3 linked regions of the Homo sapiens genome follow. The protein of the gene in region 1 interacts with the protein of each later gene in a pairwise test. Each region holds a gene or a part of one and is shown in the gene's direction. Other genes may lie near its edges.

Region 1 (4,739 bases):
TCTCAAAAAATAGCCAGGTTCAGTGGCCCATGCCTGTAATCCCAGCACTTTGGGAGACTGAGGCGGATGGATCACTTGAGGTCAAGAGTTCGAGACTGGCCTGGCCAACATGGTGAAACCCCATCTCTACTAAAACTACAAAAATTAGCCTGGCATGGTGGCACACGTCTGTCTTCCCAGCTACTCGGGAAACTGAGGCAGGAGAATGGCTTGAACCCTGGTGGTGGAGGCTGCAGTAAGCCAAGATCGCGAGACTCGGTCTCAGAAAAAAAAAAAGAATCCTTTCTGACAAAAAATCATCATCTTTTCAATGAATCTTCTTTTGCTTTTCATAAGTACCTTGCACTGTGCTTAAATCCATTTCCTCTCATTCTGCCCTCAGTAGGGAGCTCATTAATATCCTCTGCATCATGAACCCAAAGACCAGCATTAATGCAACCTCCACATTCTCTTCCTCAAGTTGAACAATCCCGTTGCCTTTCATCTTGTGTCCTGGCTTTTGCTTTCCAGCCCTTTAAACAGCCAAGACACTGAGTACAGCGGGAGAATTGCTTTCTAGTTGCTGTGGCCCGCGCACCTGTTCACATAATGCAGCGTCGTAACGCCTTCTGCTTGAACTTTCCTTTGTGTTGTTGAGAGTGTTTCCTTTGGCATCGTATCACTGCATACTGCTTGCTTTAGAACACCAGGGCCACGTGACTCAATTATGCATATTTCTTGTTATGCACCAGGCTTCCTGAGCCCTTTCTCAACTCTGTATGCTAGATCAGTCATTCTTCATTGTAGGTTGGCTTGTTTGCCTTGCCTCCTTCCTCCCGAGTAGTCCTTCGGGTCCAGGTCCCTCTTGGGCTCATCGTGTGCATTTCTCACCATTTCTCACTCCCTCCTGCCTCAATGAAAGGTCCTCAAGTTTGAGTGGCGACAGCAGCATATGGTGACTTGCATTTATATAATCTAAATTTTGTTCCTTTTTTTTTTTCTCTTTCTCTGTCTGCTAAGATGCTGGATTTGAGATTCCAAACTTATTTGTGGTGGGATATGCCTTAGATTACAATGAATACTTCAGAGATCTGAATGTAAGTCTTGCATGCAAATCCCTAACCGCCCTTTTTATAAGAACTTAACAATTTAAAAAAGTATTGAATGCGTGTTAGTGATGTCTGCTATTGATTGAGTATCTTCTATGTCAGGAGTATGGTGAGCACATTGCATCCATACTCCCAATTAACTCCCACTACTATTCTGCAGGGTAGGTATCAGGATGATAGAGGCAAATTATGATTATCTCTATTTTGTACTAAAGAAATAGGAAGCTAAAAGCAGAACTATGGTTTGACACTGATTCTTCTCCATAGTCATTGACTGTGCCCAACCAACCATAACAATAGCCAATATTCTATACACTGGTTTGTGTCAGTGCTTGAACTCTAGCAGGTTTCAATTACAGTGGCATGCAGCTCATAACTCTTCCCTCTTTGGGGGAAATGATCTCACCACACAGACGTGGACCCCCAGTGTGGACCCCAGCTGTGTGACCCTGACCAACACTGCATGATCTAGAGGTAGACAACTTACCCATAGTGGACCAATCAGTCTCTCTGTCCTGGGAATTAGAAATTTAAACCAAAAGTCACAGAGACTGAGTGTGTTCAGACTTCAACCACTAGGATAGCAGTGCCCCCAGAGAGTATCCATAGCACCATGGGTGAAAGTCTCTGGAGCTGCCCTTGTTCCTGCCTTCTAGTTGCTTCATTGCCCAGCTCATCCTTGGATTCTGAGAGCTACCCCAGTATTCCACCAATAAATTCCCCCTCCCCCCTCTTTAAAGACACAGGGTCTCACTCCACAGTCTCACCTAGGCTAGAGTGCAGTGACGCAATCATAGCTCACTGCAGCCTTGAACTCCCAGGCTCAAGCGATCCTCCCGCCTCAGCCTCCTGAGTAGCTGGGACTACAGGCACACGCCACTATGCCTAGCTAATATTTTTACTTGCTGTAGAGATGGGGTCTTCGTATGCTGTCCAGGCTGGTCTTGAACTCCTGGCTTCAAATCATGCTCCCACCTCAGCCTCCCAAAGTACTGGGATTACAGACAGGGGCCACTGAGCCCATCCAAATCCTCCTTTTTTGCTTACATTAGCCTGGCCCCATTTCTGTTGCTTTCAATCAAAATATTCCTAACCCTTTGCTTGTTGCCCAAAAAGGGTTGAATAAGAGCCCATGTTGTGCTTGCCACTGTTATTTCTCCATTCACCCAAGCAGTTGTCATCTTACCAGTAGGAGACTTCTGTTTCTAGCAGGGCTAAACATACAGCTCCCTCAGCATTTCTGGGTTTTAGGGACCTGGGGAGCCGGATTCAGAATAGGAATCTCCAAACTAAACCACAAAGGACCTTTTGTCAAGCACTTGAATGGGTCTCTTTAGATTTTACCCACACATATAAATACACACATTTCTATTTAAATGATCAATAGCCAATTACAGGATGGCATTCGGTTATTACTGCATCACCTTTTCTGTGTCTCATATTTTGTTAAGAAACTGATGCGTTTAAATCCTTTATTGTTTCAGCACATATGCGTCATCAATGAGCACGGTAAAGAAAAATATCGAGTCTAAAGACATGAATTCTCACCACTAAAGTCCCAGATAGCATCATATTTACGCCTGTACTTGGGAAGCCAGCTGTCAAGTTTGTCCCCCCAGGCATCTTCACTCAGCAGGATATAAAAGAAAAAAATGTTCAAATGAGAGAGCTTTCTTTTCTGAGGTTAATATAAAGAGTATCAAAGGTTCCTAAGGAAAAGAAAGCAGTGCTTTTATTTGACTTGTTCCAAATTAAACACTCCGCCTTGTGACTCAGCAATGCTATCTACCTTCACACTCCTGAGCTCCGCCTTCCTTTGTTTTGATACAGTCATTATATTTGATTAGTATTCCCAGGAATACCCCCACCTAGTTACTCAAATATTTTTCACTTAACTTTTTATACTCTTATTTTGGTAATAAGCTTACAATATTAAGAAGCTGGGGACTTTTTTTTAACTGAAGACTTGAGTCCCCTATACCGGGAATGCAGCTATTAATAGATTCCCATATTTTAAAAGGAGGGAAAGGACAATTTAATATAAATTTCTGTTTGTGCATTTCTGACAGGCCATTATTATCTGCTTTGACAAAGCCTTTCTGAAACGCAGTGTACAATGAATCTTAATGATGTTATGAAACGAGCTTTGCTCGGGGCTCTTGATTGGAGCTTCCGGTATGTGATGACGGTATGTCATGTATGCATGGATGTACTCAACTGTGTTTAATACTCTGAATTTTAATTAGAAAAAAATACAATAGCAGCAAGGCCCTGGTTTCTAAGCTGTATCCTTTTATTCATGTGGGACATGAGCAAATGGCAGAATTAGGGGCGAGTGCTTTCAATGCTCGAAACTAAGCAAGTATAAATTTTTCCTCTTATTTGCATGAAAGGACAAGACACTGTTATGCCCTGTCCTAAATGTGAAGACAGAGGTTGAATTTTTTAAAAAATATCTTTAAAAGACTGATCACAAAATCCAAGGTGCTACAGGAAACAAGCACACTCAAGAAAGTTTTTTTCTGAATAACATTTTTTTCCAATTTCTCCGTTTTATAAGACATTTCCTAATTTATGGGGATTTTAATTGAAAATAAACTTGAGTCCCAATAGAGCTGTTTTTTTCTCACTTCCTACAAAATGCAAATGCAAAATAAATAACTAAGCAGCTTTTGTTTGGTTCTGAACCGTATGTGGCGTATTGTTATTAGGTTCTAGCTTCCTTTAAACTAATAAAGAATAAGAAAACTTGTTATGTTTTATCACTTCTTACTGTTTTTCTTCCGCCTCCATATTTTTTAAATACTTTCAGACATTAACATGTATGTGAGTCAGTAGCTTAAATATACGACTGCATGTATCTATCCTGCGGCTTTATTTTTGTTAACTTGGATTAAATCCAATATATGCACTAGTAGAAGCAAATGATTAAGCTGGGCTAGATCTGCTGCTTTTTTTTTTCCTCAAGCTCGTTTGTGAGAACAAGGAATTTTAGTTGTAAAAGAAGATTTTCCTGCATATCTTTGTTTCGGTCAGAGAAGAAAACAAGCCACACCCAAATATCCCAAGGGATAAGTCTGCAAAAGGAATCTCTTCTAGCTTTGTTTCACAGAAGCATTGGTACCCAAGCTTAGATTTATAATTGTGTCTGACTGACGAATTTCTTGAAATACCAAAATTAACACTCTGAATATAGCTTTTTTTTCACAATGCCATGTTTATGTCAGAGGACCTAGAAAAATCCAGGCACACATTTGGTTTTAAGTGTAAAATTATCCATAAGTATGCAATATGAAAATGTTTTCTTAAAAACGTTGAATTTTAGTAAGCATCAGTATCCTTTCTGAGGACAGTCTGTTTATTCAAATTAGAAAGGAGATTGATCTACCTCACAAGATTGTGAGGACTTGTATAGTTAATGCTGAAAATTCACTAAATATGCAAGAAGTTTAATCATGCTTGCAGTTTTTTCCTACCAGACAATATTTTGACAGTGATAGCCAAGAAAGTCATCTTGGGAAAAATAGTATTTCCTTTTCTCTTGCAAAACTCATGTCTAGTTAATATCACTGAGTTTATTCACTCTAAACCAAAAATGCAAAACTTATTACTTGATTAATAACAAATCCATTATTAATTTAGTGTTCCAAA
Region 2 (8,386 bases), on another chromosome or scaffold:
TTTGCCTCTGTGTGACTGTGGGCAAGTTGCTTCACCTCTCCGTGCTTTTGTTTCTTTCCAGGTAGAATGGGGATTATTATTTGTGCCTGCTTCATAAAACTGACATAAAGTTAATTGTAAGACACCTAGAATGATGTCCAGCACATAAGCAACTATATTAACTTTAACAAAAAATCTTGGCCGGGCACGGTGGCTCACACCTGTAATCCCAGCATTTTGGGAGGCCGAGGTGGGTGGATCACCTGAGGTCAGAAGTTCGAGATCAACCTGGCCAATATGGTGAAAGCTTGTCTGTACTAAAAATACAAAAAATTAGCCGGGTGTGGTGGTGGGTGCCTGTAATCCCAGCTACTCAGGAGGCTGAGGCAGGAGAATCCTTGAACCCTGGAGGGGGATCTTGCAGTGAGCTGAGATGGCACCATTGCACTCCAGCCTGGGCGACAGAGACAGACTCTGTCTCAAAAAAAAAAAAAAAAAAATCTCTGTGCACTTCCTCCTTGAAGCCATGTAGCCCAGCTGTATATCCATCTTACCCTTTGGAATATGAGATGCTTAAGGCTGGGACTATGTCCAATTCTCTCTGTACCCCAGTGCCCAGAGGAGTCCAGCACTTACTTATTGTCTGCGGCAGGCATTGAATTTTCCAAATATTCCTGGTCCCAGGTGCTCTTTCAACCTCTTGCTGCCTCCTGTCTGGAGGTGAGGTCTCTTTCCCCTCCCCTTGAGCCTGGGTGGTGCTCATGTGATTGCCTCAACAAATAGAATGTGGTGGAAATGGCACTGGATGGCTTCTGAGGCTAGGTTATAAAAGGGATGTAAGTTCCACCTGGCTCTCACTGGGAATGCTCACCCGTGGACTCCAGCCACCATATTGTGGGGAAGCCCAAGCCATGTGGAAAAGCCACTTGCAGGTGTTCTAGTCAATGGCCTCAGCTAAGATCTTAGCCAAGAGCCAATATTAAGTGGTAGACCTGTGGTATTAAGAACATTCATGCTGTTATACAATTATCACTACCATCCATCCGCAAAACTCTTTTCATCTTGTAAAACCAGAACTCTATGCCTATTAAATGATAAGTCTTCATTCCCCCTCCTACCAGCCCCTAACCACCATTCTACTTTCTTTTGTTGATTCTGGCCACTCTAGGTATCTCAGACAAGTGAAATCATACAGTGCTTTTTCTTTTTCTTTTTTTTTTTTTTTGAGACAGAGTCTCATTTTGTTGCCCAGGCTGGAGTGCAGTGGTGCGACCTCAGCTCACTGCAACCTCTGCCTCCCAGGTTCAAGCGATTCTCCTGCTTCAGCCTCCCGAGTAGCTGGGACTACAGGCACTCATCACCGCACCTGGCTACTGTTTGTAATTTTAATAGAGACGGGATTTCACCATGTTGGCCAGGCTGGTCTTGAACTCCTGACCTCAGGTGATTTTCCCACCTTGGCCTCCCAAAGTGCTGGGATTACAGGTGTGAGCCACCGCACCCGGCCTACAGTGCTTGTTCTTTTATGGCTGTTTTATTTCACTTAATGTTCTCAAGGACCATCCATGTTGTGGCATATGCCAGAATTTCCTTCCTTTTTAGGGCTGAATTGTATGTCTGGCCCACATTTTGCTGACCACTCATCCGTTGATGGACACGTGATGCTTTCACCTCTTGGCTTTTGTGAATGATGCTGCTACAAACGTGGGTGTTCACATGTCTCTTTGAGTTCCTGCTTTTGGTTATTTGGGGGATATACCCAGAAGTGGAATTGCTGGATCATATAGTAATTCTATGATGAGGTTTTTGAGGAACAGCCACGCTGTTTTCACAGGGTTCCAGTTTACTCACATTCTGGCCAACAGTTGTTATTTTCTGGATTTTTTTTTTAATCATAGGCATCCTAATGAGTGTGAGGTGGCAGACTCCCTCAGTCTCTAGGGCAGAGAAGAGAGAGCCTCTGAGAAGGGTCTGTGACTTTGAACACTAGAGCTCTGAGCAGGAACATTCCCGAGGGCTGCTTCTAGTCTCCTGAAGACCAGAGCTAACCACTGGGAATGGATTGTGGTGACTGAAGGGTGCCGAAGTCAGAACTCTCAGTGGCCTGGCACTGTGCCTCGAAGTGCCTCCCTACTGTGTTGATTAGTCTAAAAACATGTCAGCCTTTGGGTATGACCTTACTGGGGCCCCTCCAGACAGGGCATGGAGCAGAGGGCCCTCCTTTATGGGCTGGACTCACTAGTGAAGCTGCTTAACTGTGACTCACCTCCAAGGCTCAAGGTGATGCTAAGGTGCTAAACTGCTGGAACTCTTAGCTGTGCCTGTGTCTCCTTGGGCTCTGGGAGATTTTTTCTTTTAGCAGTATTTTATGGCGATATTGTCTAGGTAGAATAAAATGTACAGATCCTGGTTTTCTGTTTGAGTTTTGTTTTGTTTTGTTTTGAGACAGGGTCTTGCTCTGTCACTCAACCTGCAATGCAGTGGCACGATCATAGCTCACTGTGGCCTCAGCCTCCCAGGCTCAAGCAATACTCCTGCCTCAGCCTCCCTGTAGCTGGGACTACAGGCATGCACCACCATGCCTCACTAATTTTTTTGATTTTTAGTACACAGAAGGTCTTGCTATGCCGCCCAGGCTTGTCTCAAACTCCCGGACTCAAGCAATTCTCCTGCCTCAGTCTCCCAAAGTGCTGAATTACAGGTGTCAGCTGCTGCACCCAGCCTCAGCCTGTTGTTAATGGATGTAAACACCTGTGGGACCACCACCCAGAACCAGATCCAGAACATTTCCAGCCTCTCGAAGACTCCTTCGTGCCCCTCCCAGTCAGTGACTCCCAAGGGTAACGCCACTCTGGCCTGTTGTTCAACTTGACTCGAATGGAATTCTCACAGCATGTGTCTGTTTGGATCTGGCTTCTTCCGCTCAGTTGCAAGGCTCATTGACGTTTCCTGTGGCCTAGCTCCTTTTTATTGCTGAGGGCCACCCTGTGGTGTGAAAACCACAATTCATTTCTCCCTTCTTCTGTTGGTGACTATTTGCATTGTTACCAGCCTGGGGCTATGACGAGTAAAGCTTTTAAAAACAGACAAATATGTTTTCCTTTCTCTTGGGTAATTTTTCAGAAGTAGAAAAGCCAGCAACTTTGAAGTAGATATTTGACTATATTACAACTCACCAAGCAGTTTTTCTTTCTTTTTATTTTTTTTATTTTTTGAGACAGAGTCTTGCTCTGTTACCTAGGCTGGAGTGCAGTGGCGTGATGAGGGTTCACTGCAGCCTCGGCCTCCTGGGCTCAAGTGAGCCTCCCACCTCAGCCTCCCACATAGCTGGGACCACAGGTGTGCACCACCACACCTGGCTAATTTGCCTTTTAAATTATATGTAGAGACAGGGTCTTCCTATCTTGACCAGGCTGGTCTCAACTTCTTGGACTCAAGTGATCCTCCCGCTTCAGCCTCCCAAAGGGCTGGGATTACAGGCATGAGCCACCACGCCCTGCCCATTTTTCTAAGTTGGATTATTTTACACTCAAGTCTGCTATGAATGATAGTTCCAGTTGTTCCATATCCCAATCAATTGGTGATTGCTACAAATGACGTGACGTGATGAAAATATTCCTGGTGTTCGAGAGGATTGCAAAGAATTTCCCTTCTTTTCTCTCCTTTCTGCTCCCCTTGTACTGTCTACTCCTTAACTTGGTCAAATTCTACTTGATCCAGAACATAATGGGATGGTGAGTGCAGACGACACACACGGCCTCAGTCTATGGGAACATCTCAAAGGAGTTCGTCTGCAAATTCTAGTGCATCTAGGCAGAACACAGGAAGGAAGAGAGGTGCAGACTCACGTATGGCCTGGGGCACCTGCCATCCCCTCGAGCCTGTATGGTCCTTACCCGCCCATCCCCAGCTTGAGTTCTGGGCCTTCTCGCCAGCACATCGTTGGGACCTGGTCAACTTCAGGTAAGTTTATTTCATGGCTCCCTCTCCCCTCTGCAGCCTATCCTGTTATTCTCTGTTTCAGCCAATTATTTCCCCTAACTAGGTGCTGAAGCCAATTAAAGGCAGTTCATGCCATATGTTCCTTCCCACTCCCATGTCACTTGAAATGTTCTATTATGTCCAAGACTTCTCTCCCCATCCTAAAGCTCACAAAATAAGGATGGAGAAGAGAAGAAAGAGAGATTCACTGAGGGGGAGGATCAGAAGCTCCTGGGCACCCCATACTCTAGAATAAAAATCTTCATTATAGTGTTTTTCATGCAAAATATTCCCTTCTACATAATTATGTTTTAACATGAAGAATAGAAATTTAAAGAGGAGAAATACTTCTTGAAGATTCTGAGAATCTTCATATAGCTCAGGCTGCCACGAATTAGCTGTGTGACCTGGGGCATGTCCCTCAGACTCTGAGCCTCAGCTTCTCTATATGTAAAATGGGTTGAAGCCGCCCTTCCCCACAAGCACCCTGTGCACAGGCAATGCCCAGCCCCATTATTTTCTGGAACCAGTGGCCAAGCATGCTTAGGACACCCAGCCACATACTTCTGGGCAGTGTCATCTGGCAACTCACTGTCATGTCAGTGTGGTCAAGCATTGTAGACCTCTATGAACCAAATATGCTTCAGGCTGGGGTTGAGCACAGGAGAGGGAGGAGGGAAAGGTCACTGGGGCTGGGAGTGCCTACTTCCCTCTATGAGTGTCACCCCAGTTCACCCAACACCCTACCTTTCTCTCTCTGGACCCACTTCCTCTTGCTGCCGGCTCCTCCCCATTGAATAACAGCCAAGTTGCTTTGGTTTCTATTACTTTGTTAAGTCATTCCTTCTGCAAAGGACTGCCTGGCAGGTGTGAAAGGCAGCGGTGGCCACAGAGGCGGTGGAGATGGCCTTCAGCGGTTCCCAGGCTCCCTATCTGAGCCCAGTGAGTTCCAGGGCCGTGGGCACAGGGCTGCCTCAGCCAGGGGGACACAGTTATGGGGCTCTGAGGAAGCAACTCCTGGGTGGCAGGAGACAGGGGTGGGGGCATCCCAAAGAGAACACAAGCAGGGCAGAAATGTCAGTGGGGGTCGTCCTGGCACAGCTGTGCCATGCTGAGCTCACTCATGCCTGGAGGGATGCTCCTCCCATGAATCATGGGTTTGACAGTGTTGGCTGAGCTGTCGTGTCCTGTCCTGTGCGCTCAGGGGAAGAGGTGTAGAGTGGGATGGTTTGTGTAAAGAGGAAGCAAGCATGCTTCTGGGACAGTAAGGATGCTACCCGGCATGGTAGTTAAGGGTGCGTACTGTGGAGTTGGCCTCCCTGGGTCCAGCTATTTACTGGCTGGTGGTCTCTGGGCCTCAGTTTCCATATCTGTGAAGTGGGAATAATACTTGAGCCCCCCACTCCCAGGGTTGGGATATGGATTAAGGAAGTAGTGTATCTAGAGTGTTTGAACAGTGCCTGACACACTGTAGGTGCTTTGGGAGTGTTTCATGTTATTGGGAGTCTGGGGGCAGCAGGGAAGGCCTCCCGAGGAGGTGTCTGTGCTCTGAAGGGTGAGGCGGAGTTAACCAGGCATAGGCATGTCAGGGCATCTGTAGACGGACAGTCTCAGAGGTGACGGAGGCAGGGACTGTCCCTGCAGTGTGGGGTCAGAGGGCTGCAGGTGCCTTGCTGAAACTCTGTGAGGTTTATGAGTCCCCTTCATTCACGGAAAATCCAAGGTTCAGGGAGGCAAAGGCCAGTTGCCAAATGCCCCCAGATGGGAGTGGCAGCCCCAGGAGCCCAGGAGCCTTCAGGGGTGACTGTGTCCTGGGCTGGGTCCTGTCACAGGATCTCACCCTGCCTTGGCAAAGAGCTTCCCGAGGGGCTGGAGTGGGTGGGCTGATGGGCCCTTCCTGAGTGGGGAGACAGAATGGGGAGGGTGGGCAGAGGCAGGGTGCTGAGGGCAGGGAAGCTGCCAGGGGCCACCTCAGCAGAGGCCAGGGTCGGGCTTGGGTGCCCTCTGGTGATACTGAGTCCAGAATGAGGCTGCCTATGTTCTGGTCTGCAGAGCTCAGCTCTGCTTTCTAGACTCCAGAGAGGAAGAATGGAGAAAGGAGGCCTGTTTCCTCCTGGCTGTCACCAATGACCCCTCAGCCACCCTATGGAAGCCCCCAAGGTAGAACCTGCATAGAGGGAGTGGGGGAAGCTGGAACGGGCTGCCGGTGTTGGGCGAGCCTTAGAGTCAGCGTATGCCACCTTGAGCATGTCACCCCGTTTCTGGTTTTCTGCCAGAGAGGGGATCCCAGAGCTTCTTCCAGGTTCTGACATATTATTATTCTGGTAACTGGTTTTTACTTTCTAATCTTTGGATTCAGAAGGAAAATCCTCCTATGCACATCAGAGAGTTTGAGAGAGTTAAAGCGGGGCCTTGGAGCTCAGACAAGAAAGACGATCAGTGCAGCCCCCACAGGTGTCCAGAGCTCCCCTCTACCCTACGGGGGCTCCCCTGGGTTGGGACACTTGAGCCTCACTCGGTGACCCATCTGGCAGTCGGAGCCACGCTTTCTCCACATGCCGACAGTGGGGGAAGGTCACGCGGTTCACTGTCCTGCTGAGGAGGGCTGAGTGCCATGAGGGCCTGGCTTGGAAACCTCACTCCCACTTCTTGTCTGGCCTCATCTAGCCCAGCCTCTTTGGAGGGCTGGGGGGAAGCTGGAACCACCTGCTGTGTGGCCCAGGAAGCACTGCGAGAGCCAGGAATAAGGACGTTCCGAGCTTCCTCATGAGAGGAAGCCTGTGTGGTGGTTAGAAGCGTGGGTGCTGGGGTTCAAATCCCAGCTCTGTTGCCGACCAGCTGTGTAGCTTTGGGCAAGTGACTGAACTTTTCTGTGCCTCAGTTTCCTCATCTGTAAAAGTGGCCGGGGTTGCTGTGAGGATAAATGTTCCCGGTCACCCCCAGAGCCCTCATGGACACACATGGATCCAAATGCCACAGCAGCCTTAGCTGGCCAACTTAAAACAACACATTTGTGCTTACAGTGTTGGAGGTCAGAAGGCTAAAATCAAAGTGTCATGAAAGGTGGCCAGCAGGACCGTGGAGCCTCTGAGGCAACAGGGCACTTTGGCTAAGGGCCACGTACTGGCTCCAGCTGGCAGGCAGTCTCGGCCAGCCAGGCTGAGCTCCCTACTCCTGGGGCCAGGCCTTGGTGTCCTCTGGTGATGCTGAGTCCAGAATGAGGCTGCCCACATTCTGGTCCGCAGGGCTCAGCTCTGCTTTGACTTCCAGGTAGGAAGAAGAGGGAAAGTCCCCGGTCTCTGGGCACAACCAGGAACAGAGAGCAAGTTCTGACTCAGCAGAGGGATTGATTTGTTCCATGCAAAGAGCTGCACTGTCAAGGCCGACATGGGCCAGAGGCTCAGCACATGGCATCGCACCCCGTCCTCTCAGAACGCTGCCAGCCAGGGACTCAGCACATGGCATTCCACCCAGTCCTCTCCAGAATGCTGCCAGCCAGGGACTCAGCACACAGCATTGCACCCAGTCCTCTCCAGAACACTGTCGGGTGGTGTTACTGCCCTGCCATTCAGAGGAGGGAAGTGGGGCACAGGCAGGTCAAGTGACTTGGCCAGTGTCAGAATTGCTAGTGTACAGAGCTGGGAGGCGAGCCCAGGCCCATGGGACCACAAATCCAACACAAAAATCCATCCTCCTGCACCCTACGGAGCAAAAGTAGGTCCAGTTGTTTTCCTGGGTTTCCTGGACACACGGATCTAAATTCCACAGCAGCCTTGGCTGGCCAATCTTAAAACAACAAATTTGCTTTCTTAATGATTCTGGAGGGCAGATGTTAAAATCATCGTGTGAGCAAGGTTGTTTCCTTCCGGAGGCTCCAGGGGAGAATCTGTTTCTTTTGCTTTTCCAGCTTCTAGAGGCTGCCTGCCTGCCTTGGCTTATGACCCCTCCTGCCATCTTTAAAACCAGCAGCTTTGTCTGGGTGCAGTGGCTCATGCCTGTAATCCCAGCACTTTGGGAAGCTGAGGCAGGAGGATCTCTTTAGCCCAGGAGTTGGAGACCAGCCTGGGCAACAAACTGAGACTGTGTCTCTACAAAGAATAGACAAAAATTAGCCAGGCATGGTGGTGCATGCCTGTAGTCCCAGCTACCTGGGAGGCTGAGGTGGGAGGATCGCGTGAGCCTGGGGAAGTGGAGGCTGCAGTGAGCTGAGATCATGCCACTGCACTCCAGCCTGGGTGACAGAATGAGATCCTGTCTCAAAAAAAAAAAAAAAAAAAAAACACAACAAACAAACAAACAAAACCCCCAAAACCAGCTTCTTGCTTCTGTTGTCACATCTCTTACCTCTGACTTTGATCCTCCTGCTCCCTTTTATAGGACCTTTGTGATTACATTGGGACCACCTGTATAATCCAAGACAATCTCC
Region 3 (8,246 bases), on another chromosome or scaffold:
TATTTTTTGCTTTTGTAGCCTGTGCTTGTGAGGTCATATCCAAAAATCATTGCCCAGACCAATGTCATAGATATTTTCCCTTATGTTTTCTTCTAGTTGTTTCACAGTTTCACCTCTTACACTTAAGCCTTTAGTTCATTTGAGTTGGTTTTTCTATGTGATGAGAGATAAGGGTCTAATGTTATTCTTTCATATGTGTGTATCCAGTTTTCCCAATGCCATTTATTAAAGTGACTGTCTTTTACCTATTGTGTTCTTAGCACTTTTGTCAAAAATTAGTTGGCTGTAAATGTGTGGATTTATTTCTGGGCTCTCCATTTCTGTTGCATTGGTCAGTGTCTGTTTTTATGCAAGTACCATGCTGTTTTGGTTACTATAGCTTTGTAGTATATTTTGAAGTCAGATAGTATGATGCCTCCAGCATTTTGTTTGTGTGTGTGTGTGTGTGTGTGTGTGTGTGTGTTTTCTCAAGGTTACTTTGACTATGTTTTTATAATTCCATACAAATTTACGATTTTTTAATGCTGTGAAGGTTGTCTTTGATATTTTCATAGGTATTGCATTGAATCTGTAAATTGCTTTGGGTATTATGGCCATTTTAGCAATATTTATTCTTCCAATCCAAGAACATGAGATATCTTTACATTTATTTGTGTCTTCTTCAATTTCCTTCATCAATGTCTTACAATTTTCAGTATAGAGATGTTTTACCTCCTCAGTTAAATTTATTCCTAAATGTTTTAATTATTTTGTAGCCATTGCAAATGAGATTGTTTTCTTGATTTCTGTTTGAGAGAGCTTGCTGTTTGTGTATAGAAACACTAATGACTTTTGTATGTTGATTTTATGTCCTTCAACTTTGCTGAGTTTGTTTATTCTATTTAACAGGTGTTTTTTTTTTGGTAGAGTCTTTAGGGTTTTCTATGTTTAAGATCATGTCATCTGCAAACAGGTGTAGTTTAACTTCCTCTTTTCCAATCTAGATTCTTTTTATTTATTTCTCTTGCCTAATTGCACTGGCTAGGACTTCCAGTACTATATTGAATAGAAGTGGTGAAAGTCAGCATCCTTGTCTTGTTTCTGATTTTAGAGGAAATGCTTTCAACTTTTCCCTCTTCAATATGATATTAGGTGTGAGTTTGCCATAATTGTCTTTATTATGTTGAGGTACCTTACATCTATACCTATTTTGTTGAGAGTTTTTATCATGATGTTGAATTTGTTTAATACTTTTTCTGCATCTATTGAAATGATCATGTTTTTGTCCTTTTTTATGTTAGCGTGATCCATGTTTATCAATTTATGTTTATTGAACCAACTTTTCATCTCTTGGATGAATCACATTTGATAATGATGCATGATCATTTTAACGTACTTCTGAATGTGGTTTGCTAATATTTTGTTGAGGATTGTGCATCTATGTTAATCAAGGATATTGGCCTGTAACTTTACTTTTGTTGTTGTATCTGGTTTTGGTGTCAGGGTAATGCTAGGAAGCTTGTTTTTAGGGTAACACTAGAGAGCTTGATGGAAGCAAGCTGACATATAGGAAAAAAAGTAGAGAAGTCAAGAACTTAGTAGTCCAGATGAGGTCAAAGATCAGGTAAAACAGAAATCTCTAACTTAGAAAACTGAAAAAATCAGATATTATATTTTAAAACTAGGAATTTTTAAATTTTTTTTTTTGAGTCAGGATCTCACTCTGCTGCCCAGGTTGGAGTGCAGTAGTGTGATTGTAGTTCACTGCAGCCTCGATCTCTTGGGCTAAAGTGATTCTCCCACCTCAGCCTCCTGAGTAGGTAGGACTCTAGACATGCACCACCATGCCTGGCTAATTTTTAATTTTCATATTATTTAGAAATGAGGTCTCACTACATTGCCTAGGCTGGTCTCAAACTTCTGGCCTTGCGTGATCCTTCTGCCTGGGACTCTAGGCACATGTCACCGTGCCCAGATAATTTTTAAAACTTTTTATAAAGATGGGGTCTTGCTACTTTGTCCAGGCTGGTAGCAAGTTTGTAGGCTCAAGTGATCTTCCCACCTCAGCCTCCTGAAGTGTTAGGATTACAGGCATGAATCTCTGTGCCCAGCTTCAATTTATTTTCTATGAGTGGAACAATTCTGCATAATAACAAGGTCTTCATGGCTTGGGAGGAAGTGGCAGAAGTAGAATGAAGTGGAAGTCATTGGATTTGATGAAGTTGAAGAAGCTTTGCATTAGGGTATTTTATAGGCTATCTACATGGGTGATGAAATCTCAAGATGATGGTAGGCCTTTTAATGGAGTGGAAGTCTATGGTCTAGTTTTCAGATACTTTAATGAATGATCGGAAATAACAAAGAGATTGGAAGTAGACAATAGTGACGACATGTGGAAGGTAAACCGCATTTAATGATCTGGATGCAGCATCAGGGACTGAAGAGGTTGCCAACCCTACCTCCCTACTTGAAGTGTGGTACATTGAGCAACAACCATTTGAGAGTGATGGAGGGAGAATAGTTTTTTGGGAGGATAAATTCAGTTTTAAGTTGAGACTTAGCTGGCAGAAGCCTCCTGTAGTAAAACTAAAGATGCAGGAAAAATTGTTTAGCATGTGCCAGGGGTTCCAGAGGACACAGTAGAAGGAGAGCTCAGAGGGTGAGGGTTTGCGCAGGAGGTGGGCATATGAGAGAAAAATAGCACAGTAAGGGTGGTGACTGAAGCCAGTGTGGATGGGGGGGTATGTATCTTGAATTGTCACAGTCCTTTGCCCACTGCAGAGAGCAGGGAGTGCCACTGTCTTAATGTTTGGATTTTTTCAGGTTTTCGAAAGGCCTTACACTCTGACCGTCCTCCTTCTGCATCTCAGCCCAGAGGGGAACTTATGTGTTATAAGGCCAAGACATTCCAGATGGACGATTACAGTCTCTGTGGGTTGATAAGTCACAAGGACCAGCACAGTCCAGGTGAGTACCTTTATAGGAACATTTTCTCAACAATGTTTTTCTGTCACATATACAGGACTAGGCAAGCTAAAAGCTTGTAGTTACAGCTATGACAAGAGATGCATGTTTCTCGAAGGGACCCCCCATGCATTGGAAAAGATTCATTCCTCCACCCACAGAACCAGCCTGGAAACTTACCATGCAGATGAGGCAGGCCTCGGTTCACCCCTGCAATCTATAGGGACTGACAAACTAGCCTTCAATGTTCTGCTGCCTGTGGCTTTCTTTACCCAGGAGTTCATCTGTTTGAAAAGCACTGGGCAGAAGGTCAGATTTGTTCCGCCCCTATGTTTCCCAGGGTCAGCCTAGCTAGGTTCATTAGGATATCATATAGGACCTTGAAACCTGCTATCCCAGTGGAGTCTAGGGTGACCCCTAGTCGAACAAACCCCCTTGGCCATCTCAGCTCACACAGCTTGCCTGCGGGCTGCCCTCGCCCCCCAGCAGAGCCCTGCTGCCACCATCTGTGAGCCCCTGTTCCACTGGTCATCCTTTCACAAGTAGGGTTTGAAGACCGATCTTCTGGATGTTGTCTGATGACTTTCTTTCTATTGCATTCTTGCTATGGCCTGTCTCTGAATTTAGCAGCCCTAAATTCAAGTGTGCTGAGGTGCCGATAGCTCCACAATTTCTCATTCTTCTCTTTTCTTTCTCCTCAAAGGCTTTGGAGAGAATCACCTTGTGCAGCTGATTTACCACCAAAATGCAAATGGTTCCTGGGATCTGAATGAAGATCTAGCCAAGATCCTAGGTATGAGTTTGGAAGAAATAATGGCTGCACAGCCTGCCGAGGTAAGATTCAATGGAAAAAGGAGTATGTATGTTTTTGAGAGAGAGGTCATCATTGAGAATTGAGGTGATTCAGGACCTACCTGAGGAAGGAAAATATAGGGGGTCATAGACTAAATTAATTTGTAATAAATAGAGGCTGAAGGTTTTTCCAGTCATGTTAGAGCAGAAAGATCAAGGGATTAATGGGGAAGCTAGTAGGAATTGATGGGGTTTTTTTTGCTGGTGGATGACAAAGGGAAAGCAAAAATCCTCTTCCACTTTAATCGTATTCCCTGCCAATCATCTTGGTTATGTAACTAATACTTAGTGAGCAATTACTCTGTGCCAAGCACTGTGCTAAGCAGTTAATATTCATGAGCTTATTTATTTCACACATTAATTTAATAAGGTAGATCCCATTTGTGTTGCTGTTTATAGATGAAGAAACTGAAGTTCAGGGAGGTCTAAAAATGTGTCTGAGTTTACCTAGCCCATCAGTGGCAGAGCCAGATTCAGTTCTAAGAGTATCTGTCTTGAGAACCCCCAATAATAACCTCATTATTGCTCCTCTTCATACCGATGAAAGTGGTCCAGACATTGGCAAAAGTTAACTGAAGTCAGGATAGGTAAAGTGTTGTTACTAGGAACCACCTAGTTGTTTCAGATGTATTTAAATATGCTGATAAGGATAAATTGCATTCCAGAATTTCAAGGTAACTTACAAAATCTTCTAACGCTCATTGAGAAGTTGTTAGGCATGAGACAGGTGCAAAAAGCCTGAAGGACAAATATCATTCTAAACTTTCAAAATGTGGAAGGAGATCAAATAAATTTCAGATATTCTGCAATTCCACTGTCCAATACAGTATCCACTAGTCACATGTGGCTATTGTGCCTTTGAAACGTGGCTAATACAAATGAGGAACTGAATTTTTAATTCAATAGAGGTGTGCTATGGTGGGAAATACATACTAATTGCAAAGACTTTTATAAAAAGGAATAAAACATTTCATCAATAATTATTTTTATATTGATTGCATGTTAAAATGATGACTTTTTAATAGATTGGGTTAAATAAAATATATCAGTAAAATAATTATACCTCTTTTACTTTTTAAAATTTGGCTACCAGAAAATTTAAAATTACATATGTTTCTAGCATTATATTTTTATTGGAAAATGCTGTTCTAGAAAAGTAATTAAGATGATAATTCATACACACTTGGAAGAGGATACAGGGATTATTAGATGCACTGGGAACAAAAAACTTCAGACTGACATTTCCTTCTTTGGAATGGTAACCAGGCCAATGAATCAAGTGAACCAACAGACCTGGTATATCTGAATTTCAGTAAGGAATTTGATTTTTTTTTTAATGATGAGAACATGGACCAAGTACAAATTAGTTGAAAACCTATGGCGCTGAATGATGAATTGATTTCAAACATGAAACAGATTTTTAGACCCACCAGGCTCTGAATTCTCTGGAGGTCCACAGTTTCAATGAAGATTTAGATGAAGATAAAGACCAAGACTTTCCTATTTGTAGATGACAAAACTGGGAGATAAACTATCAGTCAAAAGAATCAGGATCCCAAAAAACCTCTGAACAATGAGTTGCAACTTTTCATTAAAAAAAAAGAAAAACAACATAGTAGGAATAAAAGCTAAGTACTGTTTTGGGTTCCAAATTCCCAACTCTACAGGTAGAGAAGAGAGCATTTGCACATGAAAATCAGAGGTTTTAGATGACTACAACTGTGTGAATCAGAATATTTAACTAAGAAATGGAGGACAACAGGGTTACCTGAAATGGGCTGTGATTGTAGAATTCTATAAGTACATTTACCTCCAGATAGACCATTTAAGGAGATATATTTTTAAAATCATTACGCTGTTTGTTTTTAGACTAGGAGAACAAGCGTGGGGATGCTTACTGCTTTGACATAAGCAGTCCTCTTAAGGAAGAAATGGAGGAATTGAGAATTCTAATCTGAAATAAGACCACTCAGAGAGGACATGATAGCCATTTCCAAGTTTTAAAAGTCATGATATAAAATAGGAATTTCCCTTGATCTCCTGACTCTGAAAGCTGAAGCTGGGAGCAGTGAGCGAAAACTCATGGGAGACAATTTTCTGCTGCATGGCTGAGATTTTCTATTGAGAAATAAGAGAATATAACTAGAGTCAGAATATTTGGCCTTTAGTCTCACTTCTGTCGTTTGCTAGACAGCTAAGTTTGAGCAAATCATTTTGTTAATACTTCTATATGAAATCAGTTTTCTTTCTTAAAAATGTTTATTGATATTTTTTCATGATTTCTTTGGTGGGGGGGTATAAGGGTTACAATTAAAAAAAACTTATGAAGGTTCTTTATAAACTATAAAGCAGTTTTGCCTGTGTTTCTCTTACTAGAGCTGGCCTTGTCTTAGGGGTTTCCAGAACCGTCCTGGTGGTTACACTGGATTTAAAACTTAGGATTTTCTATTTCGAGACTCAATGGATTGCTGCCCTGAGGTTTAAGGCCTGGCATTATGCCTTGCAAGTAGTATCTGGAGGTAAAGAGAGACCAGGTAACTCCATCTAGTGACATTTAGAAGGATGCTAAGTGAGGAGGGAGTGAAGCTTTTTGCATCCTTTTGAGGGACTTCCTGTGCCAACTGGAGCTCTCTATCTACTGTGCAGCTTGTGGATTCCTCAGGCTGGGCCACCATCCTGGCCGTGATCTGGCTGCACAGCAATGGTAAGGACTTGAAGTGTGAATGGGAGCTTCTGGAAAGGAAGGCCGTGGCCTGGATGCGTGCCCATGCAGGTAGGAGCACAATCCTAAGGCCTGTCTCCTTCCCCTTCCCTGGCCTGGCGGAAGGTGACCACAAGAGAGTCCCATTGTCACCTGCCTCCACCATCCTGCTTCAGATCTTTACTAATCTTTCTGCTAGTTCTTTTCTTGGGAGGACAAGGGTGAAATATTAAATTGGGGACAAGGTAGGTGGGTGAGTAGGGAGGGAGAGGGACACAAATGGGGAGTGTGAACTGTGAGAAGGACAAGTGGCATTGATTCTCCTTACTGTCTCAGTACCAAGCTGAGTAGAAGACTAGACTTGGTGCGTGTTCTCCTGGCTGTTTGTTATCTCACTGCAGCTGAGTGTATCTGGGGCCAGAGAAGATTCAAGGAGAATCTGGGTAGCAAGAAAAGAAAAAGCAGGGATATTGAGGACAGATAAAAGCACAACTCAGGGTAGATGATCTGGGAGGTTTGGAGGAGCCTCTAATTGCAATCCTTCATCCCTGCTTCTTGTTTTTCCTCACCACAGGCTCCACCATGCCTTCGGTTGTGAAAGCTGCTATTACTTTCCTGAAGTCATCTGTGGATCCTGCTATCTTTGCCTTTTGAAGATACCATCCAGAAAAAGAAGTGCCTTTAATTTGCTACTGTCATTTCCTCTAGTATCACTTTTGCTGTGATGATGTGTTCTTGTGTATTATAACTCTTTATTTTTTGCCATAAAAGTAAAGGATGCTTACTCCACTTCGCTTCTCTGCTCCAGGTTCACTTTGGATATGATCTTTCTTTTCCCAACATATGCCCTCAGAAAAGTGACAGTGGTCCCAGAACCTATTCCCTTTCTTGAGGGAGTTCAAAACATTCATAGGCAGTAATGTTCCTCCCAGGGTTTCCAGGGAAACAACATGAAAAACAGGTGACATGAACTACAGACTAAAGATTGCAGCATTTATGTTAGAGAATGCTTGAATTAGAGAATTTTCTGCATTATCTTTGTCTGTTCACTTTCTATCTTATATACTTATCAGGGCCATACTGGTAAGCTTGCGTAGGAGGAGTTAGAGGGAAGTTGAAAGCCAACATCTGGATCAATGTAATGTCAAGATCACAAAGACAGAGACTGCAGGGGTCCACTGTGAGAGGTGACACTGTTGGGGACCTTCCTGATTCATTCTTCTTGGGCTTTGCTAGCCTGTACAACCTACATGTCTTTTCTTCCACTGCCTGAAAGACTTGGGTTGAACTATAACTGTTGGAGAGAGATGTTCCTCTTTAATCATGAAACACCTTAAGAAGTCTATAATGCAATCCTTAGTCCTACCCTGAACCTATGTGTCCTCTAAGTCAGGCCCTGATCTAGTGCAGTAAAGGGAAGGGTGGGCTTAATGGGAGCTTTGCCTGGGACCTGAACCTGGAGCACTTACCGCATTAGGAAGAAAGGAGCTCCCCGTAATCGTTCCTGACCCTTGTGTCTCATATACCCTATCCTGGTGGAAATGACCCTATTTGATATGCTGTCCCTTAAAATAACTTGTATCAATATTAAAATGACTATTTCTACCCTTTGATGAGTAAATGCAGTGGTTCTTAAAGTGGTCTCGTCTCCCTACCCCACAATATTTTGGTACTGCCACTTTGGGAAGCCAAACTAGGATAGTAAATTGACCGGAACACAGTTGTGGAAATTTGACCTGAAGTTAGTGAA

The links. Proteins that work in one complex are often made in the same cells at the same time.
Region 2: the proteins of PRTFDC1 (region 1) and LGALS9B interact in binary tests that used the Homo sapiens proteins (3 or more experiments, as listed by UniProt).
Region 3: the proteins of PRTFDC1 (region 1) and VWA5A interact in binary tests that used the Homo sapiens proteins (3 or more experiments, as listed by UniProt).

Annotation. Positions count from the first base shown.
Region 1 is NC_000010.11:24,847,725-24,852,463, reverse strand, and holds the end of PRTFDC1 (phosphoribosyltransferase domain-containing protein 1), read left to right. Parts: intron 1-999; coding exon 1,000-1,076; intron 1,077-2,572; coding exon 2,573-2,620; 3' UTR 2,621-3,850; downstream 3,851-4,739. UniProt on the Homo sapiens protein: Has low, barely detectable phosphoribosyltransferase activity (in vitro). Binds GMP, IMP and alpha-D-5-phosphoribosyl 1-pyrophosphate (PRPP). Is not expected to contribute to purine metabolism or GMP salvage.
Region 2 is NC_000017.11:20,463,948-20,472,333, reverse strand, and holds the start of LGALS9B (galectin-9B), read left to right. Parts: upstream 1-4,794; 5' UTR 4,795-4,863; coding exon 4,864-4,902; intron 4,903-8,386.
Region 3 is NC_000011.10:124,138,796-124,147,041, forward strand, and holds part of VWA5A (von Willebrand factor A domain-containing protein 5A), read left to right. Parts: intron 1-2,802; coding exon 2,803-2,946; intron 2,947-3,646; coding exon 3,647-3,777; intron 3,778-6,441; coding exon 6,442-6,568; intron 6,569-7,070; coding exon 7,071-7,150; 3' UTR 7,151-8,246. UniProt on the Homo sapiens protein: May play a role in tumorigenesis as a tumor suppressor. Altered expression of this protein and disruption of the molecular pathway it is involved in, may contribute directly to or modify tumorigenesis.